Linked DNA regions of Homo sapiens: region 2 is linked to region 1. A link means that fine-mapping ties the variant in region 1 to the expression of a gene that starts in the linked region. Tissue or cell type: esophagus mucosa. Region 1 holds a variant in brackets; the other region holds the start of a gene. All regions are shown on one strand. Distances are between the middles of the regions.

What was found. PIP is the estimated chance that this variant, and not a neighbour inherited with it, causes the effect.
Region 2: PGCKA1 starts here. The variant in region 1 is fine-mapped to the expression of PGCKA1 in esophagus mucosa (GTEx, PIP above 0.99).

Annotation. Positions count from the first base shown.
Region 1 is chr4:37,580,170-37,588,274 of GRCh38, forward strand. The region is part of intron 2 of PGCKA1 (PDCD10 and GCKIII kinases associated 1); the gene reads left to right. It also overlaps a transcript of RELL1 not described here. Among named protein-coding and RNA genes, the nearest start is that of RELL1, 100 kb to the right of the region's middle. The variant C/A (reference allele first, on the strand shown) is at 3,879.
Region 2 is chr4:37,450,302-37,458,406 of GRCh38, forward strand. It overlaps PGCKA1 (PDCD10 and GCKIII kinases associated 1), which reads left to right and starts at 3,624. Exons shown (of 4, transcript NM_001104629.2): 1 at 3,624-3,739. LOC124900691 (a long non-coding RNA gene) reads right to left here. Exons shown (of 3, transcript XR_007058098.1): 1 at 6,335-8,105; 2 at 5,179-5,289; 3 at 4,016-4,793.

The DNA of each region.
Region 1 (8,105 bases):
TCCTTCTCTGTGGTATCTTGAATTTCTTTGAGTTTCCTCAATACAGCTATTTTAAGTTTTCTGTCAGAAAAGTCATATATCTCTGTTTCTCTAGGATTGGTCCCTGGAGCTTTAGTTAGTTCTTTCGGTGAGGTCATTTTTTTTTTTTTTTTGGATGGTCTTCATGTTTGTGGATGCTCACTGGTGTCTGGGCATTGAACAATTAGGTATTCCTCATAGTCTTTCCAGTTTGGGCTTGTTTGTACCTGTTCTTGGGAAGGCTTTTCAGGTATTCGAAGGGACTTGTGTGTTGTGATCTGAGCCATATCTACATTAGAGGCACCCCAAGCCCAGTAATGCTATGGTTCTTGCAGACTCATAGAGGTATCACCTTGGTGGTCTTGGATAAGATCTGAAAGAGTTCACTGGATTACCGGGCAGACTCTTGTTCCCCAAACAAAAGTTTCTCTCTCTGTACTGAGCCACCTGAAGCTGGGGATAGGGTGACACAAGCACCCTTGTGGCCATGATCACTAGGACTGTGCTGGGTCAGACCTGAAGCCAACACAGCACTGGATCTTACCCAGGGCCCTCTGTAACCACTAGCTAGCTAGCTCCAATGTTTGCTCAAGGCCCTAAGGCTCTACAATCAACAGGTGCAAAGCCAGCCAGGCTTGTGTCCTTCCCTTCAGGGTGACAAGATACCCCAGGCCCTAAGTGGGAGCTAGGGACTGAAGTCAAAATCCTTAGAGATCTACCTGGTGCTCTATTCTACTGGGGCTGAGCTGTCACTCAAACCATAAGACAAGGCCATTTCCATTCTTCCCTCCCCTTTTCCCAGGCAAAGGATCCTCTTCCTATCACCATTACTACCACAGGCCCACAGAGAGTATTGCCAGGCTACTGCCGATGTTCACTTAAGGCCCAAGGGCTCCTCAGACAGTTTATAGTAAGTTCTGCCAGGCCTAGGACACATCCTTCAGGGCAGTGGACTTGCCTGTGGTCAAGTGCAAATCCAGAAATGCCATCCAAGAGCCAAGGCCTTGAATTAGGGACTCCAAGAGCTCGCTTGGTGCTCTACCCCACTGTGGCTGAGCTGGTACCTAAAGTGCAAGACAAAGTCCACTTTACTTTTCCCTCTGCTTTTCTCAAGTAGAAGTAGTCTCTCCCCATAGCCACCACAGCTAGGAATGTGCTGGGTCTCACCTGAAACCAGCACATCTCAGAGTCTCACCCAAGGCCCATAGCGTACTACCTGGGTATTCCTGCTGGTTATTCAGGGCCCAAGGGCTCTCCACTCAGCAGGTGATGGGTCTTGCCAGGACTTGGTCCTTCCTTTCAAGGAAGTGCAGTCCCTTCTGGCCCAGGGTGTGTCTATAAATGTCATCTAGGAGCTGGGGCCTGGAATGGGGGCCTCATGACTCTGCCTGGTGCCCTATGCTAATGTGGCTGAGCTGGTATCCTATGGTGTAAGACAAAGTCCTCTTTACTCTTCCCTGTCTTTTCCTCAAGCACAAGGAAGGGGTCACTTTCATTGCTGTGAGCTGTGCTGCCTGGGTTTTGGGACACGTGACACAGGTTCTCCCTTAGCCACTCTGGTGTCTCAGTAGATCAGGTGCCCCCCCAGGTCCACTGGCTCTGGCCCCAGCACAGTACTGATATCTTGCCTAGGAACCACAGTTCTTGTGGCCTAGGCTACCCTTCAAGTGTATTAGGATTGCAGAGCACTTTAGTCCATGGTGGTGCGGCTTGCCAAAACTCAAGTTCCAACAACTGGAATATATAATTTCCCTCTGGCTAGATCTGGTCCAAATGCTCCCTCTGTGTGTGGGTAGGCTGGGGGGTCGTGGCTTAGCTGATTTCAGCCTGGTTTTGCTTTCTGCTCTGATAGGGCAGCACTGAGTTCAAACGCAAAGTCCCCAAATCACTGTACTCTCCCTCCCCCAAACACACAGATGCTCTCTCCACGACATGCAGCCACTGCCAAGGAATGGGCAGCGGCAGTTCAAGATTGTCTTTCCTACTACCCTCTTTAGTGCCTCTTTCAGCAATATGAAGTTAAAACCAGGTACACTGATTGTGTACCTGATTTTTGGTTCTTATAAAGGTGCTTGTTGGTGTAGATGATAGTTGTTAAATTTGGTGTTCCTGTGGGGCAATGAAGTGAACATCAGTGGAGGCTTCTATCTGGCCATCTTGTTCTGCCCTTCCCCAAGAGCATTCTCTTATATAACCCCAGTACAATGTTCAAAAGCAGGTAATTCACATCAATTTAATACGATTACCTAATCTACAGACCTTATTCAGATTTTACCAATTATGTCAATAACGACCTTTTAGCAAGAAGGACATGCAGTGCATCGGCTGTCATGTCTCTTAAATCTCCTTGAATTTGGAAGCATTCTTCTGTCTTTCTTTGCTTTTTCATAACATTACATTATTTTAAGAGTACAGGCCAGTTGCTTTGCAGACTATCCCTCGTTGTTTCAACTCAGAGTATGCTCTTTTGTCAGGAAATCACAGAAGTGAGGCTAAGTTCTCAGTGCATCCTATCAGGAGCCACATGCCATTGATTAGTCTCATTATGGCACTATTACCTTTGATTACTTGGTTAAGGCGCTGTATGCCGGGTTTCTCCAACGTAAGGATAATATTTTGTCCTTAATCATATGGGGGGGAGCTACTTTAAGACTAAATATCCTGTCCTCCTCAAAATTTCACCCACTAGTCCTACCATCCATTGATACTTCTTACTGACATCAATTATTATTATGATGGCTATCAAATGGTTTTTCTATTATTATGATGGCTATCAAATGATTTTTCTAGTTCCAGTATTTCTCGTATGTTTGTTAGCTGGTTTCCTACTTGTAAGGTAGAGTGTTCCCTTTCCCTTTATGTATCTTAGTGTGGACTCATAAGTCCTTGTTTTATTCAATTGGCTACAAATGCTGTAGATTAGTAATTATTTTAATATTCCAGTTGTTCCACATTTGGCCAGTAAAACTTCTACAAGTGGATTCCTGTGTCCTTTTAAAATGTCCCTGTCATTCTTCAAAGCTATCACTATTTAAAGGCAGCTTCCAGATGGGTTGAGTCTTTTCCTATATGCCCTTGACTTCCTAATGAATACTCAGTTAATTTCTCTGCCTGGCTGGAGAACTCCTGGGCTTCCCTGGACTTCGCCCTTCCCCTACCTCCATTGCTACCCTCCCAGCAAGGAGGCTTCACCAATGACTGACATGGCATTAGCATGGCCTTCTTTTTTTATTGTTTGTTTGTTTTTGTTTTTGTTTTTTTTTTTTTGAGACGGAATCTCGCTCTGTCGCCCAGGCTGGAGTGCAGTGGTGCGATCTCGGCTCACTGCAAGCTCCGCCTCCCAGGTTCACGCCATTCTCCTGCCTCAGCCTCCCGAGTAGCTGGGACTACAGGCGCCCACCACCACGCCCAGCTAATTTTTTTTTATTTTTAGTGGAGACGGGGTTTCACCGTATTAGCCAGGATGGTCTCGATCTCCTGACCTCGTGATAGCCTGGCCTTGTTTAAACACAAAACAGAGTCAGCCCCCAACACAGGGCTGCAGAAGCAGGCGGCAGCAGCATTGGGTGGACACAGCCATCCTAATGGTGTTTGTTTTTCCCCTGTGTAAACTAAGAAGTGGTTGTGAAGGATTTTCCCTTTGTTGCCTGTTGCTTTTTTATGCTCCAAAGAGGAAGCAAATTTTGATTTTGCTCAGTAATAAAGGGTACCCAACAACTGAATTCTTACCTTTAAGCTAGCTGTTGCCAAAAGGGAGGCAAGGAAGACAGCTGATAGACTGCTCATTTTGAACCCAATCTTACGTCAAAAGAGCATATTTTTTTCATTGCTGTGTGTCACATGCTAGACCCGGAGCATTT[C/A]CTTGTTGCCCCTGGGCTTAGGAGAAGTCCTTGCTAAATGCAAGATGTAGAAGTGGGAGTGACATATGAAAAAAGAAATGAATTAAATTTGATATGACACATCATATAAGGAAGAATAATTGTAGACACAGGCATGCAGGGGTTGGGTGTGAGTACATTAGTCCCCACCCTTTTCGTCAGCAGTCACACAACCTTGGACATTAGAGCCTGTCCGTCTGATCTAGAGAAGGAATGTTGCTGGGGAAGGAAAACTCAGGGCGAGGTGAGAGAGGACAGAACCTCTAACCAGGAAGAGGCTGTCCCCGCCAAGCTCCGGAGAGGCGCGGAAGCATGACCCTCAGGTATGGGACCAGGTCTATAGGAAACCCATGTGGTGTGCCCTAATGGGAGGCAAGCCGGGGAGGACCCAAACTGGAAACCTGATTCTGAAAGAGGAAAACCACCACAACATCCTTTGTAATTGTGCAGCTTGGAAGAACAGTATAGATCCTGTGGTTTTCCTGGGGAAGGAGGGGAGCCTAAAAGCCGCAAATGATGTATATTTCCTTCAGAAGCAGGGAAGGGGCAGTTTTCGAGTACGGCTGTTAAATCTCAGCACTCACTTCATTCGGTGCAGGCTGCTCCTGTGGTCTTGGCTATAGCAGCAGAAGGCGGGGATGGAGGGTGCCCCAGGGTCAATCTTGGTCAGCCTCCGAGGAGCTGGGAGTGCAAGGTGTCACTCTGGATGTGCCTGCCTGCTTTTCCTCGCCTTCTTGCCCTCCTTCGCCTTTCCTCCCTCTTTTCTTTCCTCCTTTCTTTCGCCTTCCCCTGTACACCTCTTGAATTCACCATCATAAAGTTGACCTGAGATGTTTCAATGAGTAATGTTTTATGATTGCTTCAGTTACATTATTACAATCCAGTCTGCCTTCCTTGTTTCTCAAACAGTTCTAAGCTCTTTTCTCCTTTTCTTTGACTTGTTTTTTTTTTTTTTTTTACTACCTATCCTCCTGACTAGTTGTTGTTGTTTGTTGGTTGGTTTGCTTTTAAAGAGTCCAGGATAAACAAAGTATTGCAGGCATGAAAAGGGTCAGGATTTCAGAGCGAATTGTGGAGGGGGAGGGTCAGGAGGGGAGGGGAGAGGAGGGGAGAGGAGAGGGGAGGGTGGAGGAGAGGTATTGAGGGAGGGGAGGGGAGAGGAGAGGTATTGAGGGAGGGGAGGGGAGAGGAGAGGTATTGAGGGAGGGGAGGGGAGAGGAGAGGTGTTGAGGGAGAGGAGGGGAGATCAGAGGTGTTGAGGGAGAGGAGGGGAGAGGAGAGGTGTTGAGGGAGGGGAGGGGAGAGGAGAGGTGTTGAGGGAGGGGAGGGGAGAGGAGAGGTGTTGAGGGAGGGGAGGGTAGAGGAGAGGTATTGAGGGAGGGGAGGGGAGAGGAGAGGTGTTGAGGGAGGGGAGGGTAGAGGAGAGGTATTGAGGGAGGGGAGGGGAGAGGAGAAATGTTGAGGGAGGGGAGGGGAGAGGAGAGGTGTTGAGGAAGGAGAGGGGAGAGGAGAGGTGTTGAGGGAGGGGAGGGGAGAGGAGAGGTGTTGAGGAAGGAGAGGGGTGAGGAGAGGTGTTGAGGGAGGGGAGGAGGTGCACGTGCTTCTTCTCGCCTGTCCTATTTATCCAGCTCATCTATGAATTATCAGCAGAAAAGGAAAGTAAAGGAGGAGTAGAGGCTGGGAATAAAATCCTGGGCTTTAGAAATGGGGTAGTTTAAGAGTATTCTGAAAGGTACAATGTTACACATGTGTACACAGTTCCATAGCAAAAGCGATTTTTCTGTCTACGGGACTGTTGTTGTACTTGGGGTTTTCTATCTTTCAATTGGTGTCACAGTTGATAGAAATATACCATGTAGCCCTTATTCCAGAAACAAGTCCTACTTGACATTGTTAATACTCTTGTTTGTATGCATAGGTTCTGGCAACTAGATTATATCTTTCTTGGATACTAGACCTCCATCTTTTTCTTTTTGGGGGGTGTGTTTTAATATGCTGTATCCAAATGGGGTGGTTAAGACACCCCTGGTCTATGTTTATTATGAATGTTTGCTCATATGACCCCCAGCAACACTATATAGTAGGAATATTATTATCCCCATCTACAGGCCAAGTGACTGAGGCCCAAAGTCCCACAGTAGCAGGGTTTTCTGTCTCCTGAGCCCACCCTCATAACACCTGGGCGACACGGCTGGCACAAACTGGAAATGTCTTGATTGGTTGCAGACACACAACAGGTTCACTGATAGTGCTCTCGTTTTTAATCCATAGCCATTAAATCATTCATTCATTCCACATTTATTGACTGCCTGCTCTGTACCAGGTGCTGTCCTAAGTGCTGAGAATTAGACTTGAAGAAGGGTGGAGCACGGTAAGGAAAGAGGGTGGCAAGAGATGCACGGCTGGTCCGAGGGACTCTTCTACATTCCATGAGTCCTCCCAGGAAGAGTTGGAAGGACAAGGGGTTTGGTCCTCAAGCATGAAGTGATTTGGGGATGTTACTAGTTTTCTGTGCTGCTGCAGCAAATTACTACGAACTTAGAGGTTTAAAAAAATGGAAGCAGCCGGGCATGGTGGCTCACGCCTGTAATCCCAGCACTTTCAGAGGCCAAGGTGGATGGATCACCTGAGGTCAGGAGTTCAAGACCAGCCTGGCCAGCATGGTGAAACCTCATCTCTACTAAAAATATAAAAGTTAGCTGGGCGTGTTGGCAGGCACCTGTAATCCCAGCTACTGGGGAGGCTGAGGCAGGAGAATCACTTGAACCAGGGAGGCAGAGGTTGCAGCGAGCCGAGATTGTGCCATTGCACTCCAGCCTGGGCAACAGAGTGAGGCTCTGTCTCAAAAAAACAAACAAAACAAAACAAAACAATGGAAGTTTATTCTCTCCCAGTTCTAGAGACCAGAAGTCTGAAATTGGTATCAGTGGGCTTGATCCAGGGGTGGGTATCAGGGATCAAGGTGTCACCGGGGCCACACTCTTTCCAGAGGCTCCAGGGGTGAATCTGTTCCTTCCCTCTTCCAGCTTGGGGGGCTGCCAGTACTCTTGGTTTGTGACCTCCTTGCTCCAATCTCTGCCTTTTTGGTCACATTGCCTCTTCCTCTTCTGTCTATAATCAAATGTCCCTCCACCTCCTTCTCATAAGCATTTATTTAATTGTATTTAGAGTCCACCCAGATAAACTAGGCAAATTGTACCATCTGAAAATCCTACACTTAATCACATCTGCAAATACCTTTAATTTGGGGGCTGGGGTGGCATATAAGGTATTATTTATAGGTTCCAGGGATTAGGATGTGGATATCTTTGGGGGCCATTTTTCAGCCTACCATAGGGAGTTATTTGTGGATTTTATTTTTTTAATGTAAATCTAGTCCCTTTTAACTAAGCAACCAATCTGTACTTCTTAAAAAGCACCAGTCATATTCACTGTGGACAAAAGCTTATGAAGCAGCATCCCTGGAAATTCACCTATGATTGAAAGAAGGAAGGAGGGACAACATGGGAGACAGAGACACAGCCAGCAATGAATGATGTCTCTTTCTGGTGCATGTGCTTCATGGAGACAGGGAGACTGGGGATGCAGATTCTGTTTTGGCTTGTCTTTTTAAAGGCTGTAGGCCCGTCACAGTGGCTCATGCCTGTAATCCCAGACCTTTGAGAGGCCAAGGCAGGCAGATCACTTGAGGTCAGGAGTTTGAGACCAGCATGGCCAACGTGGCAAAACCCTGTCTCTACTAAAAATACAAAGATTAGCCAGGCATGGTGGCACCCGCCTGTAAACCCAGCTACTTGGGAGGCTGAGGCAGGAGAATCGCTTGAACCTGGGAGGCAGAGGTTGCAGTGAGCCGAGATTGCGCCACTGCACTCCAGCCTGGGCGACAGAGTGAGACTGTGTCTCAAAAAAAAATAATAAATAAAAATAAAGGCTGTAGATATTAGAAATGAATAATATCTAAGAGATGCTTCCATACTCATTTTTAGGATGTTCTGAGGAAGGAAGAGGCCAACATGGTCAGTTTTATATGAAGAGAAGATTTTGTTCCAAAGGAAATGATGGGGAAAAGCCCAGCTTGGGGAGGGGTCAGGGAACAGTGGGCAAGTGGGAAATGAGTCCACCTTCTGCCAGGAAGCCCAAGGGGGCATGTCTTTGAGCTGCAAAAGAACAGGTCCACAAATCATAGCTGAGATTGGCCCAGCGGTAGGA
Region 2 (8,105 bases), 130 kb before region 1:
ATCTTTAGGTTGAAAAGGCTAAACCCCTCTCCTTTTAGTTCTCAAAGAAAATGTAGAGAAGTTAATAAATATTTGCAAAAAAGCATTTCAAATAAATAGAGTTTGTTTAAATATCTTCTTTCCTAGAGCCAAGAACACAACAGTCAACACTGTATGCTTGCTATGCCCAAGGCATTATGCTAGATCCTGGAATGATTTGAAAAGTCACGCATGACTCCTGCCATCCAGAACCCTACAGTCTAGAAGAGACACAGCTAAACCAGATGAGACTGATTTCAAAGTTAGTAAGAGTGAGAGCCAGGTGCTGAGGATACACTACAGAGGAGCAATTAACACTACCTGAATATCGAAAAGGTTGACCCAGAGGAGATAGAGCTGAGGCTAGAAGAATAATTAGGACTTAGCTGTCAATGTCAGAGAGACATTTCAGGTAAAGGAAGCTGCATGAGCAAAAATGGGCATTGAAGCATATTTCAGGCGACTTCAAATGCTGTTGGGATTTTAGACTTTATTCAGTAGTCAATAGTGTCACTGAAAGCCAGGGGCCCAGCCTAGGTCCTGTTGCTCACTACACAGAAAGCCAATCACTAAGGCAATGAGTATTGTCAGGGAAGAAGGCTTTATTATGGGTGATATCAGCCAGAGACAGGAGACAAGACTCAAATCTGAATCTCCCCTGGCTAAAGTTGGGGTTTATATGGGGGGAGAAAACAGGCAGGGCAAGGAAGAGGAGTTGCTCAATAGGCAGCAGGTGTCTAGCATCTCACTGTAACCTCCTATAGGAAAACAGGAATTAGGGAGGGTTAAGGAAGAGGAATTGGTCAACAGGCAGCAGGTGTAAGTTTCTCAAGCTTCAGTGCTATGGGCATTTGGCTTGTTGGAAAATTGCGCTGGTTTCAACAGGGAGCTGGGAAAAAAAGTTTTGGGGAAGGGCAGTTACTTTGTCAGATGGCTTTCAGATGGAAAAGATCAGAAGCTGGGAGACCAGTAAAGACCATGGCCATGATCTCAGTTAGAAAGTGTTAGAACCTGATCTTAGAACCTGCTTAGAGTAGGGGCAATTCAAGATTTATTTCAGGGCTTAATGGATAGAGGTGTTTGATGAAGGGGAGGGAAAACTCAAATAATTCCAGTTCCAATTGGAATTGAGTAGATAGAATTACAAATGTAAAGTGAACAGGGGATGAAAGTGGGGGAAAATCACAAAACAAACTTGGACCTAGAGAGTTTAAAAGTAAGACATCCATCTAGCCCATTAGAAATAGTCTATCTATCCCATGGAGAAAACTCAAATAAAAACCCACTCAGTTCTTTCTTTCTCAGTAAGGAGATTGCAATGGATTGCAAGGAGCCCTTACTGCAATGCCTAATATGGTGTGGGGAGTTTTTTGGGCTATAACATAAACGGATACCATAATGTTTTTAATGTTGTTTGTTTTTTAGAACTCTTTCACAAATTTGGAACCATGTTGATAAATCCACTCAAAAAAATTAGCTTTCCTATCTTTCATGACTCATTGGCTGGGAACAATTTACATGTCAGTGAAAACATGGGCACACCTAAAAAATGAAGTGAATCATGGTGTTTTCACCCTGGTGTGCATCAAGAAACCATAGGTTTTTCTTCCATATGTTTTACAAGGGCCCCTCAGATCTCAATTTGGCATTCCAAGAGATCTGCAAGAAGTACAGATTACACGTTGTATGGACACATGGAGGGTTCAGTTTCAGTGTATCAACATGACAGATTACATAAAACTGGTAATCTAGGGATACAAATAAAAGCAGCACCTCTAGCTTTATAGAATGCCAGCCCTTACTATTTAATAGATGAGGGGAACTTCGCCAGCTACCTGTGCATATTCAGAGCAACGGTTCGCAAACTGGAGTAGGTACCACTTGCTAAAACACAGATTTCTTCACCCTCCCTCCCCAACTATTTCTGAATCAATACGTCTGGGGTGGGTCCCAAGAATTTGCATTTTTACTACATTCTCTCAGATTATGCCGATGCTATTAGTCTAGGAACTGCACTTTAAAATCTAAGGCAGGCTGGGGCGCGCGGTGGCTCAGCTTGCAATCCCAGCACTTTGGGAGGCCGAGGCGAGCGGATTGCTTAACCTCAGGAGTTCAAGACCAGCCTGGGCAAGTTTAGGAGAGCCCACCCCCACCCTAGTCTCCACAAAAATAATAATAATAATAGTAATAATAATAATAATAATACAAAAATTAGCCGAGCATGGTAGCATGAGCCTGTAGCCCCAGGCACTCCAGAGGCTGAGGTGGGAGGATCCCTTGATCCCCAGAGGAGGAGGTTGCAGTAAGCTGAGATCGCATCACACTCCAGCCTGTGTGCAACAGCCAGACCCTGTCTCAAATAATAATAAATAAATAAATAAAATGAAACCCAATACAAATACCAACCCCTTTTTCGACAGATAACCTACTTGATAAATGTATCAATATCCTGTAGACAATTAAGTGTCGACTATAAGTTGGACATGAGTGCCGTTCATTGTGACAAAGGATGTAAAACCACATATAACTTCCTGCAAAAATCTAACACTTTACAGCGTGCAATCCCAGCACTGCAAAATTAGAAGGATTCAAAAAATGGAGTGTTCAAATTCTCAAAAGCCTGGCAAATATCATGTGAATGGGGCTGGCATCATTAAAGTAGATACATTGAAAACCCAAGGACACTATGTCCATCCTTAGATAATACTCTGTCCAGATGCCTCTCCAATATCCTATTTTATTCTCTTGCTGGATGAGTTGAAAAGAAGAGAGAAGAGGGTAAGCTAGGTGGCGCAGTTGCTTAACACTTTTTTTGGCAAGCTCAGCATTTGCTTTGGAGCACAGGTGAAAAGAATGTCCAGTCCTTAAGCAGAGTCAGTTCTCCACCCGCCTTAGGTATATGGATTGTAACAGCTACGAATGTGGAACTCAGTAGATTGGATGCAGTCTTGTGGCCAATGCCCTAAGACCTCAGGAAAAGAAAGGGATGGAGGGGGAGTGGGTGAGGAGGGGACGGGGAACCAGGAGTTCATTGAACTCCCCCTGGGGCCTTTAGGGTGCAGGCGAGTGTGTGCAACTTCCCTGGTTTTTATCGTGGTGGTGGCGCCCCCGCTGTTTCTAGGTCCATGTAGCTCATACAGGGCTGGCCATGGAACTCACAGCAGGTCTAGGCGGCGAATGCCAGAAATAAGGAGGAAACTGAAAAATGCCAAGTTCTCGGGGTTTGGGAGTACACAACTATTTGCCAGCGGGTGCATTTGTTTTGTGTATCCCCGTACTCCAGTCCCTTGATCATAGGAAGCTCCCTTCTCTCCAGCGCAACATTGGAGTAAGCACCCCGGAGTTTCCCGTGATGGCAGGCGGTTGGCGCGGTCGTTTGTGCTCAGAGGCCAACAAGCGCGTGGATTTTCTGCTTCAGTGCGCCCGGGACTGCCACCCCGGCCCCGGGGATGTCGGACATCGTACTCCAGGGTTTCGAGCCCTAGCCCCGCCGCATCCTCGGGGCGTGCAGGTAAAGGGTTACGCGTGTCGGGAAGGCTCACCCGCAGCCCGGGCCACGTGACGCGCGGGCCCAATGACAGCGCTGGGGCGGCCGCTGCGAGCTCGGCGGGCTCAGGGCAGCGCGGAGCCGCTAGCGTCTCCCGGCGCGGCTGCCCGAGGCCGGCGAAGCCATGGGCGCCGGGACCCCGCCGCCGCCGCCGCCGCCGCCGTCTGGCCCCAGGTAGGGACAATCCCCCGCCCCGCGCGCGCAAAGAGGGCTTTAGTCCTGCGGAACTTGGCTTTGGGGCGAGCTTTCCCCCACTTCTCTCCGAGTCGCCTACTTTTAAGTTTAATTTCTTGATTTGCTTTTGCCCTGAAAAAAAAAATTAGAGACGCAATTCAAAGTTTGATGACTTCGGGAAAAGTCACGTAATTCAACAAAGGGGCTCTAAAAGGGGCAAAACTCGGGTGGGGGGAGGCGGACTTTTACAGATTCCCAAAACCAAAGACCAAGGCGTTTGTAAAGCTTGGCGTTTAATTGGTTGTGTGAAACATTTTTGCTTTTAAATCCCTAACTAATGAACTTTCAACGGTGCATGCGAACTTGAAAAAACTGCAAGAGATTTTACCTTAGATCTGTGCCCTCCTCCCCCATTTTAAGTATGTTTTTTAATAAAAAGGAAATGGAATGTGACCTCTGCTGTTTCTTTGAAATGCCCTTGGGTCCCGGTATTTGCCCCCCAGGGGTGCTGGCGGCCTGGGCAGTGGGTAGGGGTGGGGGAAGAGGTCAGGGTGCCAGGAGGCCTCACGTAGTGAAAAGAGGGTGCCAGGTGCAAACAGTTAAATAGTCACAAACTGTTTGCTAAATATTTAATAATTAGGCAAGCATCTCCCAGCTTGGTTACTTAGGTTGCATTGACCTTGGCAGCCCTGATGAGGCGAGATTTTCACAAAGTACTGGTGAAGAATTTTTCCGGTGATAAAAGGCAAGGATCAATGCTTTTTACCCCAGCATGGCAATTGACCTTAAAAACAAAATTAAAACTCCCTGTGATGACTTAGTACATTTTATGTTACTTTCCATGGCAGCATAGATACCTGCCCCATGATGGATATTTGCCCTGTGAATTTAGAGAAAGTTTGTGCTCCAGAGGTGGTTCAAATCATTGAAGAATAGGGCGTTTATTTTCTTCCTGTCACTATTTATGGGAAAGAATTACGGATGGTCCTTCTTGCCCTGGTTTGTGGATGTCCTTGGTGGTTGCAATCAAGCAAGCTCTTATGAGGAATAATATCTGGAGAAAAGAAGAGAAGCATTTGAGAGTTGAATGAGAAAGAAATGGAAAGCGGTTACTGCTTTTAAACATAATAGAGTCTATATTTGTTGCCTACCCCTCCCCCTTCCCCATTTAATCCTTCAGTTGATACTATTTTAGGAAGGATAAGACAGATGTTAAAGATCATAGACCACCTTACTGGTCCCAGCTGTGAAACACTGTCAGGAGGCAGATAATTGAAACAAGGTACATAATTGAAACAATTTGAAGCTCAAAGGTAAAGTTAAGTTCTGGAGTTATTTGTATTTCCCTAAAGTGTGAAGAGTCAGCTAACAGCAAGCTGCCTGGGTCACTGAGCAGAAATGGAACAGATGCTGAGACAGGAAGGGAAGGTGTGGCTTACTTCTCTTCTTGGCCCATTCTGTGTCTATCCTCTGATCCTGCTCCGTGCATTTATTCAGCAAGTATGATCTTGGTCCTCAATGGCTCCGGAGATTTAGATAAATAATGATACCTAAAGAGAAATAGGGCCAATCTTTCCTGTGTTTCAAAGAGCTTTTTGGATATCTGGGATTGAAGACAAAACCTTGCATACCAACTCAACACGTTCCATTATCCTAAACATGGAATGATTCCCTTGACGTCCCACCCAGACCCTCTCTGAGCCGGAAATACAACCTGGCTAAGCTCCGGCCAGAATCCATTTGCAGCCCAAGGGCAGAGCACAGGTAGGGCCGGCCCCTTTCCTCCTAGAACAGCCCGCTCTTGGTGCCCGGAAGCCCATTCACGGTGCTTCTTGGAATAGACGCCAGTTTCCAAATAATTGAATACCAGCCTTCCAGTAGCTAGGTTTCCTCTCCCTAGACTGTGTTTCACATTCCCCTAGTTACACAATTTTTCTGGTAACCCTGAATCTTGGGATCTTTTACAGTCTTGGTTAAATAGTAACTAGTACCTATGTCCTGCTTTTCTTTCTTGGTCATTAGGCAGATTTTCTTTTTGGTCATTCTTTTTGGTCATTAGATTACATGCTTACAGAGAGACTTTGTAGGTGTGTAGAAAAGAGTTGAGTTAAAGGGGTCATCCTAGGGGAAGCCGACTTGGAGTCTTCACCTATGTGCAGGTCAGATGTAGTCTTTCTCGAGTGCCTGCTCTTAACCATTGAGCCATCCTGTGTCTCCAGTTGTAGCCTTTCTTACTCTGACTGCTATTTAAGAGAATAAACTGAAAATGAAATCGCTCATCTACTTGTACCCTTTTCACCCGAGAATATCATAGTCCCACAGAGGTTAGTTAAAATCTTCAGGACTGTAGATTATCAAATAATCCTTTCCTAAAACATACGTAAAACACCAAGCCAATGAATACGTGTCCTGAAACAGAAAATTAAAACTCTGACTCAGTGTTGTCAGGCATTGTAGAAAAGATGTTCCAGAGCTGCAATGAATATTAACAAATGACAAAAGGAATATTGTATCTCACTCAAACTTTATCAGAAGTGCTGAACTCTGTTCTGTTCAGTGTACAAGTGGTTCTACAAAATTTAATAAAACCCTGACCTGGCCTTGGAGACATCATGTGCGTAGACCCAGAGACACCAGAGAGTCGATGAGTTTCTGGGGACACAGTCCTTGTCTTCAGAGATCCCAATATCTTGGGAGAAACCATTGAAGGATCTTAAGCACAGCAGATCTCTATTTTAGAGAGTTCATGCAGGCTGCAATGAGAATGAAACAGGAAAGATACAACCAAGACCAAAGGCAGCTGCGGCAAAAATTTAAATTAGAGGAGAGAGAGAAGTGAACTGATTCGAAAGATAGTTAAAGAAGCACTGGTATTTAAGATTTTAACTGTAAGAACCCATTAATTGACTTGAATCTCTGACGTCAATTTACATGTCATTTCAAAATACATTTTCTCTAGGTAGATAAATGTAAGCCACATTTCATTGCAATGTTCATGTGGATTCTAGTTCCTCTAGAGCTCCTCATGGTTTTTAATCACAGAAAAAGGTTTCTGATAAATAGCCAATTATATTTCACATTTTCAACAACCTAGTGCTTCTTTCTACAGACTTAAATATCTACATCTGAAGGCAAAGCTGAAGTAAACTGTTGCCCTCATATTATATACACATTCTCTGATTTAGCTTAACTCCTTCTGGGAGTAAAAACACCCTGACATTTGATTGTTTAACACTAGTGGAAATGGACAGTAGAACAGCCTTTCTTTTTTATTGTTTTCAGTTGACCACAACATGGCCTGCTGTATGTCACAGAGAGGACTGTATTATATTTGTAAGAGTATTAGTGACGTGTGAGAGGCTATACATAATGCCTGTGAACAAACAAAAGTCACCTTGGTTATTGACTCATTGCCGCATGCATAGCTTTTTAATACAATGTGTATTTGGATGTATTTTAAATTTATTCACTTGATCACTAGTTGTGGAGTAGATGTCTACACACAGGAGTTTTGAAATTTGATTTTGGTGTTGTTTTCCCTCATTTGATAACTGAGTATCATATATCTTGGTTATTAACGTGCAATAAATACAAAGATTTGATTCTGTATAGCTGTGAAATAGTACTGCTTTTATTTGGTCAGATTGTCAACAACCTTAGTCCTCCAGAATATGTATTGTAACCTAGAAATGCATAAAAGAAGTCCACCTGCACCTTCAAATTGTTGTTAAGAGTCACATACTTAAGATTCCCACTAGAACTTATTTGGCATTATTTCATTTCTGATTCCTAATGAGCTTGGCTACCTGGGTTCCTGGTCCACAGCAAGATCTACTTTATAGTTTCAATGTACAGCTCTTGTGATAAGTATGAAATGTGGTTACAGCCAAATGCTAGGCAGCAAAGACAATACAGTGAAGGTGGTCTGTGATTAAACCCTAAGTCTACAAGAAAAACATTAAATTGTGTTCAAAACTATCTGTTAGAAAGGAAGAAGTACTGCCTTTTGGTAAAAAGGACCCTTGATCCTTTTTAGAGCTGGAAAAGAACCTTAAAAGTTACTTGGTCTAACCACCTTAATTTACAGGTGAGGAAACTGAGTCTCAAAGAGGTTAATTGATTTGTCCAAAGTCATACAGCTGCCCATTGGAAAAACTGCTGGGACTGGAATCTCAGAGTCCCAATTCCTGGTTTAGTCATGTTCCTACTTCTGACTAAAAAGCACAAATGTTAGTACTATGAAAAACTCATTCTATATTAAGTATAATATTGTCCAAAACATAGCCACTGTTTATTGAGAAATTACTTATATATTCAGTATCAGTTATCTATTGCTGTGTAACAAATCACCCCACACGTAATGGCT